2 separate regions of the Homo sapiens genome follow, and region 2 is linked to region 1. A link means that fine-mapping ties the variant in region 1 to the expression of a gene that starts in the linked region. Tissue or cell type: uterus. Region 1 holds a variant in brackets; the other region holds the start of a gene. All regions are shown on one strand. Distances are between the middles of the regions.

What was found. PIP is the estimated chance that this variant, and not a neighbour inherited with it, causes the effect.
Region 2: it holds the start of CHPT1, and the variant in region 1 is fine-mapped to the expression of CHPT1 in uterus (GTEx, PIP 0.97).

The regions. Positions count from the first base shown.
Region 1 is chr12:101,053,423-101,057,782 of GRCh38, reverse strand. The region is part of intron 14 of ANO4 (anoctamin 4); the gene reads right to left. Among named protein-coding and RNA genes, the nearest start is that of SLC5A8, 150 kb to the left of the region's middle. The variant C/T (reference allele first, on the strand shown) is at 2,400.
Region 2 is chr12:101,695,364-101,699,543 of GRCh38, reverse strand. It overlaps CHPT1 (choline phosphotransferase 1), which reads right to left and starts at 1,904. Exons shown (of 9, transcript NM_020244.3): 1 at 1,410-1,904. The coding sequence starts at 1,682. It also overlaps a transcript of MYBPC1 not described here. RefSeq lists silencers at 1,171-1,360, 1,621-1,960 and an enhancer at 2,181-2,430.

The sequences.
Region 1 (4,360 bases):
TCTATCCATCTGACAAAGAGCTAATATCCAGAATCTACAAGCAACTTAAACAACTTTACAGGAAAATACAAACAACCCCATAAAAAGTGGGCAAAGGATATGAACAGAAACTTCTCAAAAGAAGACATTTACACAGGCAACAAACATATGAAAAAAAGCTCATCATCACTGGTCATTAGAGAAATGCAAATCAAAACCACAATGAGATACCATCTCATGCCAGTTAGAATGGCAATCACTAAAAAGTCAGGAAACAACAGATGCTGGAGAGGATGTGGAGAAATAGGAACGCTTTTACACTAATTACACTTTTGGTGGGAGTGTAAATTAGTTCAATCATTGTGGAAACCAATGTGGTGACTCCTCAAGGATCTAGAACCAGAAATACCATTTGACCCAGCAATCCCATTACTGAGTATACACCCAAAGGATTATAAATCATTCTACTATAAAGACACATGCACACGTATATTTATTGTGGCACTATTCACAATAGCAAAGACTTCGAACCAACCCAAATGCCCATCAATGATAGACTGAATAAAGAAAATGTGGCACATACACAACATGGAATACTATGCAGCCATAAAAAAGAATGAGTTCATGTCCTTTTCAGGGACATGGATGAAGCTGGAAACCATCATTCTCAGCAAACTAACATAGGAAGAGAAAACCAAACACTGCATGTTCTCACTCCTAAGTGGGAGTTGAACAATGAGAACACATGGACACAGGGCAGGGACCATCACACACTGGGGCCTGTTGGGGGATAGGGGGATCGGGGAGGGAAAGCATTAGGAGAAATACCTAATGTAGATGACGATTTGAAGGGTGCAGCAAACCACGATGGCACATGTATACCTATGTAAGAAACCTGCACGTTCCACACATGTATCCCAGAACTTGAAGTATAAAAAAATAAAAGAAAGAAAGAAACAGGATTGTCTTAGTTAATACAGGAAAAGCTTTTGGCAAAATTCTATACCCATTCATGATTTTTAAAACCCTCAGTTCCTAATAATAGAAGGAATGTCCTTCAACTTGATAACAGACATATATGAAAACCTGTGGTTTCTATCATACTTAATGTTGAAAGACTAAACACATTCCCCTAAGACTGGGCATAAGGCAAGGATGTCTAGTACATAACTTGTATCCAGCATTATTCTGGAGGTCCTAACCAGTATAAGGCAAGAAAAAGAAATAAAACTCATATAGATTAGAAAGAAAGAAAACTTATTTATTTTATAAATTTCTTAATCATCTATGTTGAAAATATTAAGGAATCTATAAAAAAGCTAGAAGCACTAATAACTGAGTTTAGTAAGTCACAAGATATATGGTCAATATACAAAAGTTAATTGTATTTCTATGTAGTAGCAATGAATAACTGGCAATTGAAATTACAGAAAAATACTATTTGTAAAAAACTCAAAAAATCCAATATATAGGCATAAATTTAACAAAATATCTGGAAGCCTTGTACATTGAAAATAATAAGACATTGCTTAGAGAAATTACAGAATATGTAAATAAACAAAAAGCTAAATGACACTCAATCTTTCCAAACTGACATTGATTCAACTTAATCCCAATCAAAATATCAACACTTTTTTTGAAGAAATTTAAGTGCTGATTCTACAATTTTTTTGGAAATGCAAAGAACCTAAAACAGCAAAACAATTTTTGAAAAGAAAAATATGATTTTAACAGTTATTATGCCATAATAATCAAGACAGTGGATTATTGCCATGTGTACACATACACATCAAACATAATAAAAATTCTGAAAACAGACCCATACATATATGGCCCATTGATTTCAACCAAAATGTACCAAGAAAATTCAAAAAGGAAAAGAACGGCGTTTTTGACAAATGGTACTAGGAAAACTGGATATCTACATGGAAAGAAATAAATCTGCCCCTTACGTTATGCCATATACAAAAACCAACTTGAAATAAGTCATAAACCTAAACATATGAGCTAAAACGATAAGCTTTTTAGAAGACAATATAGACGAAAATCTTAGAAACTTTGAGTTTGGCAAAGATTTCATAAATAAAACAAAAAATGAGTGCAGAAGAAAATTTAAATTAGACTATATAAAAAGAAAAAACTCTTGGTTTTCAAAAGGCACCATTAAAAAATAAAAATGCAAGACTCAGACAGGGAAAAAAATTTGCAAACACCTGTAAGATGAAGCATTTCTACCTAGAATATATAAAAGTACTCTTTTAACTTAAAAATAAGACAGACAACCCAATAACAAATGGACAAATGATCTGAGCAAACACTTCACCAAGTAAGATGTGCAGATTGCAAATAAGCTCATGAAAAGATGTTCAACATCGCTACTCATTAGGGAAATGCAAATTAAAACTGCAATGGGATAATAC[C/T]ATATACCCACTAAAATGACTAAAATTATAAAGACTGACAATTCCAAGTGCTTGTGAGAATGTGGAACACCTGGAATTCTCATATCATGCTGATATTGACTACAAAACGATATGGCCACTTTGGGAAACAATTTCTTACTAAGTTAGGCATTCACTTATCACATGATCCAGCAATGCCACTTTTAATTATTCATCCAAGATGAATGGCTACAAAGGCTTTTATGAAAATTTACAAAAACAAAAAACTAGAAGAGCCAATAGTTTCTAGGTTTATTTATAGTAGTTAAAAACCATACTGAACCCAAATATTCATTAACTGGTAAGTAGACGAACAAATTATGACATAGCCAGGCTCTGGAATACTACTCTGTACTAAAAAGAAACCAGCTACTGACACAGGCAACAGCATAAATGAATCTCAACAGCATTAACTGAAGTGAAAGTAGCCAGACACAAAATGCTATATATTGAATAATTTAATCTGCATGAAATTCTAGAACAGCTGAAACTACAGTGGTAAAAAGCAGGTTTCAGGTTGCCAAGGGACTGACTGCAGAGGCATGAGGAAACTTTTGAGAGGATAAAAATGTTCTCTTAGGCCGGGCACGGTGGCTCCCACACTTTGGGAGGCCAAGGCGGGCGGATCACAAGGTCAGAAGATCCAGACCATTCTGGCTAACACAGTGAAACCCCGTCTCTACTAAAAATACAAAAAAATTAGCTGGGCGTGGTGGCGGGCGCCTGTAATCCCAGCTACTCGAGAGGCTGACGCAGGAGAATGGCGTGAAGCCGGGAGGCGGAGCTTGCAATGAGCCGAGATTGTGCCACTGCACTCCAGCCTGGGGGACAGAGCGAGACTCCGTCTCAAAAAAAAGAAAAAAAGTTCTCTTATATATCATCATTATGGTGATGCTTCCATGACTATATATATTTGACCTAATTTGTTGAATTGTTCACTTAAAGTTGCTGGATTTTATTGCACATAAATTATACTTAAAGTTGAAAAAAATCTTCCCACAATCCCACCACATAAAGCAAACCACCATTAATATTATGGCATCATTTCTTTCTGTTTTCATTTACATTTAATATACTCAAAATCGTGTTTTACTTGTATACTTTATACCCTACTTTAAAAAAATTTAAATACAAGCTTTGTATTATCAACATGCTTTGAAAGAGCAATTTATAATAGCTGCTTATAATTTACCAAACCGTTCTTCTATTGTTGGACATTTACGTTGTTCACAAATTTTGCATATTATAAATAACTAAAGCTAGGAAAACATTTTACACGTGTGGTTTTTATTCTGGAAATTGGATCTTTTCTGAAGCCAAGTTCTGCGTAATATTTTGACTGAGTACTAGAATGCCTTCTAAGGGGCCTGCCTGCCACCAGTTGGCCTCCACTTTCACCTCTCCCTGCACTGTTGCCAGAGTTATTTCCCAAATACAATTGATGATGTCCCTTCCCGGATTATAACTCCAGTTGGCTTTCTGTTGCTTACAGCGTGAAGCCATGTTCTGTTGTAGCTCAAGTGGTCTGTGATAAGTAGCTCTCAGCCTTCAACAGGTACTCTGCTATGGGTTGAACTGTGTCCCCTCAAAAAAGGTCCCAGTACCTCACAATGTGACCTTATTTGGAAGTAGGGTCAGTGCACATGTAATTAGTTAAGATGGGGTCATAACTGGAGTAGGCTGGGCCCTTAATCCAATATGACCACCGTCTTGAGAAGAAGATAGCCATGTGAAGACACAGAGACACGGGGCAAATGCCAGGTGAAGACAGAGGCAGAGATAGGAGTGATGCATCTACAAACCAAGGAAGGCCAAGGACCATCAGCCATCACCAGAATCCAGGAGACTGGCATGGAACAGATCCTTCCCTCACAGCCCTCAGAATCCCACTGACACCTTGATTTTGGACTTTGAGCCTCCAGAACTGTTATGCAATAAACTAT
Region 2 (4,180 bases), 640 kb before region 1:
TGGTGGCAGGCACGTGTAGTCCCAGCTATTCAGGAGGCTGAGGCAAGGGAATCGCTTGAACCCAGGAGGCAGAGGTTGCAGTGAGCCGAGATCACCACATTGCCCTCCAGCCTGGGTGACAGAGCGAGACTCTGTCTCAAAAAAAAAAAAAAGAAAAGAAATACATAATAAGCATACCAATCCATTGACAAGATATTTTAAAATGTAGGCTCGATCAAATTTTTGTTTTTAAAGGATGCATGAGCCTGGCCAACATGGTGAAACCTTGTATCTACTAAAAACACAAAAGTGAGTCGGCCGTGGTGGCACGCGCCTGTAATCCCAGCTACTTGGAAGGCTGAGGCAGAAGAATCGCTTGAACCCTGAAGGCGGAGGTTGCAGTGAGCCGAGATCGAGCCACGGCACGGCACTCCAGCCTGGGTGACAGAGTAAACCCCTGTCTCAAAAACAACAACAAAATGGATGCATGCATGGAGGGCATGAAATATTTCCACTGTATTTCTGTTAATCCAACCTCAACCTCCATGAGTCCTCCACAAGGCCTACACTCAAATGATTATAAAGGGACTTCACTATTTGGAGCAGAGAATAGAAAGTAATGTCACAGAATGTGCAATGTAATATTTATCCCACGTAGTATAAACTATAGATGGGAGTGAACTCCACTCTGCCCCCTATCCCTCCACACTCAGCCCAAAGGGTGCTTCTGATGAACAGCTATCCAAAGCCTATATTTACTCCTTATTTTGTACAAAGGTCAAATGTAATTATTGCTAATAAAATGTTGGGGTTTTTTTAATCCCTAGGTTGTGATGACAAAAAAATTATTGCCTTGATAACATTCCAGTTTGTTTTTCTTGAAAAAGTCGATGAAGCAAAGAGGAAGTTACCTCTTAACTCATCTTTGATCAGTGCTACCGGTCATTTCAAGATCACTAGCTCAACCTTCCAGAAACGAACGGTTACGAAAGTATTCAAAGGGCGTCTCGGGCTTGGCACAAGTCCCTGTGCCAGGCAGGACGGAGATGGGGGTGTTCAGTCCCCAGTGTGCAAAGCACCCGACCGCGGGTCCGTCTCACAGGTTGGCGCCGCATGGGATAGCGGCTGGGCAGGCGCCCTCCGGCCCGTCCGCGGCCGTGGGGAGGATCTGCGCGGACATAGGACCTGGGGCAGTGACCTTAACAGCCCCTCCGCTGCCCAGGGGAGGCTTGGGATGGTCACGGGATTGGGATAGTGGCGTGACAGTCTCCAGGCGGCCCAGGGCGGACACCGCCCGGGGCAGTGGCCAGTCCGCCCCTCCGGGGCCCGGGAGAGGCTCAGCCGCGCGTGGGTCCGCCCTTCCCCCGGCGCCTCCAGCGACCCGCCCGCAGCGCATCTGGGGCCCGGCTCGGGCGATCGGCCAGCCCTACCTCTTCGGTGGCCGTGGGACAGTAGGAGATGAGCACGAGCGTGGTGACCACGTTGACGGCGAGCCCCAGCAGGGTGATGGAGTTGGGGGCCATCCAGAGCGGGATCCACTGGAGCAGCCAGGTCCAGTAGAGCTGCAGCGGCGGCTCGAGCAGCGAGACGCCCGCCGCGCTGTAGCGGTGCTCCTCCAGTCGCCGCAGCTGCGCCGCGCTCAGCGGCTCGCTCAGCGCCCTCAGCCAGCGCGGCGCGGACCCGGCCCCGGCGCCTGCCGCCATGGCCGCCTGAGGGCCCCGCCGCCGCCACCGAGCGCAGCCCGCGCCTGGCGCTGGGGGCAGGGAGAGGTGGAGGGAGAGGCTGGCGGCCGGGTCCTGCGACTGCCGGGCTGGACTCACCGGTCGGGCCCGCACGGCGGAGGTCGAGGTCAGGCCGGCCTGCCCGGCTGCCGGGGCCCCAGCCCCAGAAGCTGTGGGGCCGCGGCTGCGGCTCGCGGGTGGGGCGGGGCCTCGGGGAGGGGTCCGGCTGGGGGCGGGGCGGAGGGGGTCCTGCTAGGGGCGGGGAGGCGGGTGCCGCGCTCGCGGGTCACCCTCGGCGCCCGCCAACGGCAACTTGTTATCGGCGATCAAGGTCCTTGACTCCCCAGGGGCCGGCTGCACTGCGCCTGAGGTCTGATGTCTTAACCCACGGCGTCGGATTACGCCCTGAGGTCGTCTCCTCGCGGGCTGCACCACGACCGAGCCGGTTCCTCTCCTAGGGGTCGGAACACGACTCCGGTCGCCCAGTGTTAGCCACTGCAGGACCACGCTGCCCGCAGAGCCTGGGGGTTTTCGTGTGAGAACACAGTTTTGCAGGGCTCGGGTCACGGGGGTGACGGCCCCATCTGTCCTGCTTGGTAAAACACACAAGCACAATTCTCCCTTTCTGTACGGAGGAAGGCGGCCCTGCCATGTATTCGCTCTAGAGACCCATCACTGCGGATTCAGAGACCAAGGTTTTGAAACTGAAAATCAGGGCTTAGAAACACTAACAAGGAGACCGAATGGCTGAAACCCCGATACCTATTTTCTTCAGCGCATTTGATACCAACAAGGGTGAATATTTTTACACATACTCTTCCCTGGAATAAAGGGCAGGAGTGTCCTCCCCCTGCAAGGGGGAACAGGCTGGCTTGCCACACGCATTGGTAGGTCACCGGCCCCTTATCTCACAGTGCACTCACTTGGACAGGGGACATCTGTCATAAACACGTTCTGTTGCACAACCTGAGACAGGCCTGTCACTTGCTTTGCTCTTCACTTCATGGCTCTGATCTGCACGCACTTTCTAAGGCCTAGGACAAGCCAGAAATTGCTTCCAAGACACTTGTGTGGCGCAACCTCTATCGGCAAGTGCAGTTTGCCTCACGGGCTTCGTCAAACACTTGGCACAGGGGTCCACGAACTGCTGCCTGTGTGCCAGACCCAGCCCACCACCTGTTTTCCTACAGCCCTCCAGCTAAGTATGGTTTTGACATTTTTAAATGATTGGAAAAAATCAAAAGAATACAATTTTGTGTTGTGAAATTATATGAAATTCAAAGTTCAGTGCCACGAATAAAGCCATGTTTATTCCTTACCTATTGTTTGGCTGCCTTCATGCTACAAGGGCAGCAGAATTCAGTTGTGACAGACCGTATGGCTGGCAAAGCCTGGACTATGTCCTACTAGGCCCTTTAAGGAAAAAACTGGCAACCACTGCCTTAGAGCAATGAGGGTCTCTACAGACCAAGCGTATATGTCTTAGGAATATGGATCTCCTCATCTTTAGTGTGAAAAACGATGCTGACAAATGCAGGAAAGGAAATGGAATGATGGAGATCCACTTTTAACAATGCTGGTTTATGTGCAGTGAACTTGACAGTAACTACTTTTTAATTTACCGATGCCATGAACAGTCCAAGGAAAAAATCCTTTTCTAGATTAGCCGATTTCACTGTATTAAAGATAATTTTTAATGTACATCAAAAGACGTCATCAAGAGAATGAAAAGACAAGCCATAAACTGGGAAAAGGTATTTCCCTCAAAACCCACAATGAGTAGAACCCAGATTATGTAAAGAACTCCTAAAAATCAATCAGAATAAAAAATAATCAACTGGGCTATGTTCTGTTTCTATAGGAGAAGCCCTGGAACATGGTAATGTTCCAGGGTGCACTTATGAACATGAGTGAATTGCACAAGCATATGTTGACTGAAAAAAAAAAAGAAGCAGGTGTATTAGTCAGCTTGGATTGTCATAACAAAATACCACAGACTGAATAGCTTAGACAACAGGAATTTATTTCTCTCTCACATAAAAGAAGTACAGAATTGGCACTCCAAGACTGGTACGATGTTTCCATGGTCATCAGGAACTCAGGCTTTTCTGTCTCTCTGCTCCAATATCCTCTCTGACTTGTATCTATAAGGCCATCTCATGATTCAGAATGGCTGGTGAAGCTCCAGTCATCTTATTTGTGTTTCAAGCAGCAGGAAGGAGTAAGAGGACAGGAAAAACAAAAAGTAGATATCACTGGCTGGTGAGCAAACTGGGGTGCCTCTCCAAAACTCCCAAACAACACTTCTCCATACAGTAGTCTCCCTTTGTCCCTGGTTTTACTTTTCTGCAGTTTTAGATACCCACAGTCAACCACAGTCCAAAAATATTAAATAGAAAATTCCAGAAATAAAGTGTGAGTTTTAAATTGCATGCCATTCTGAGTAGCGTGATGAAATCTCACCCAGTCCCACTCTTCTC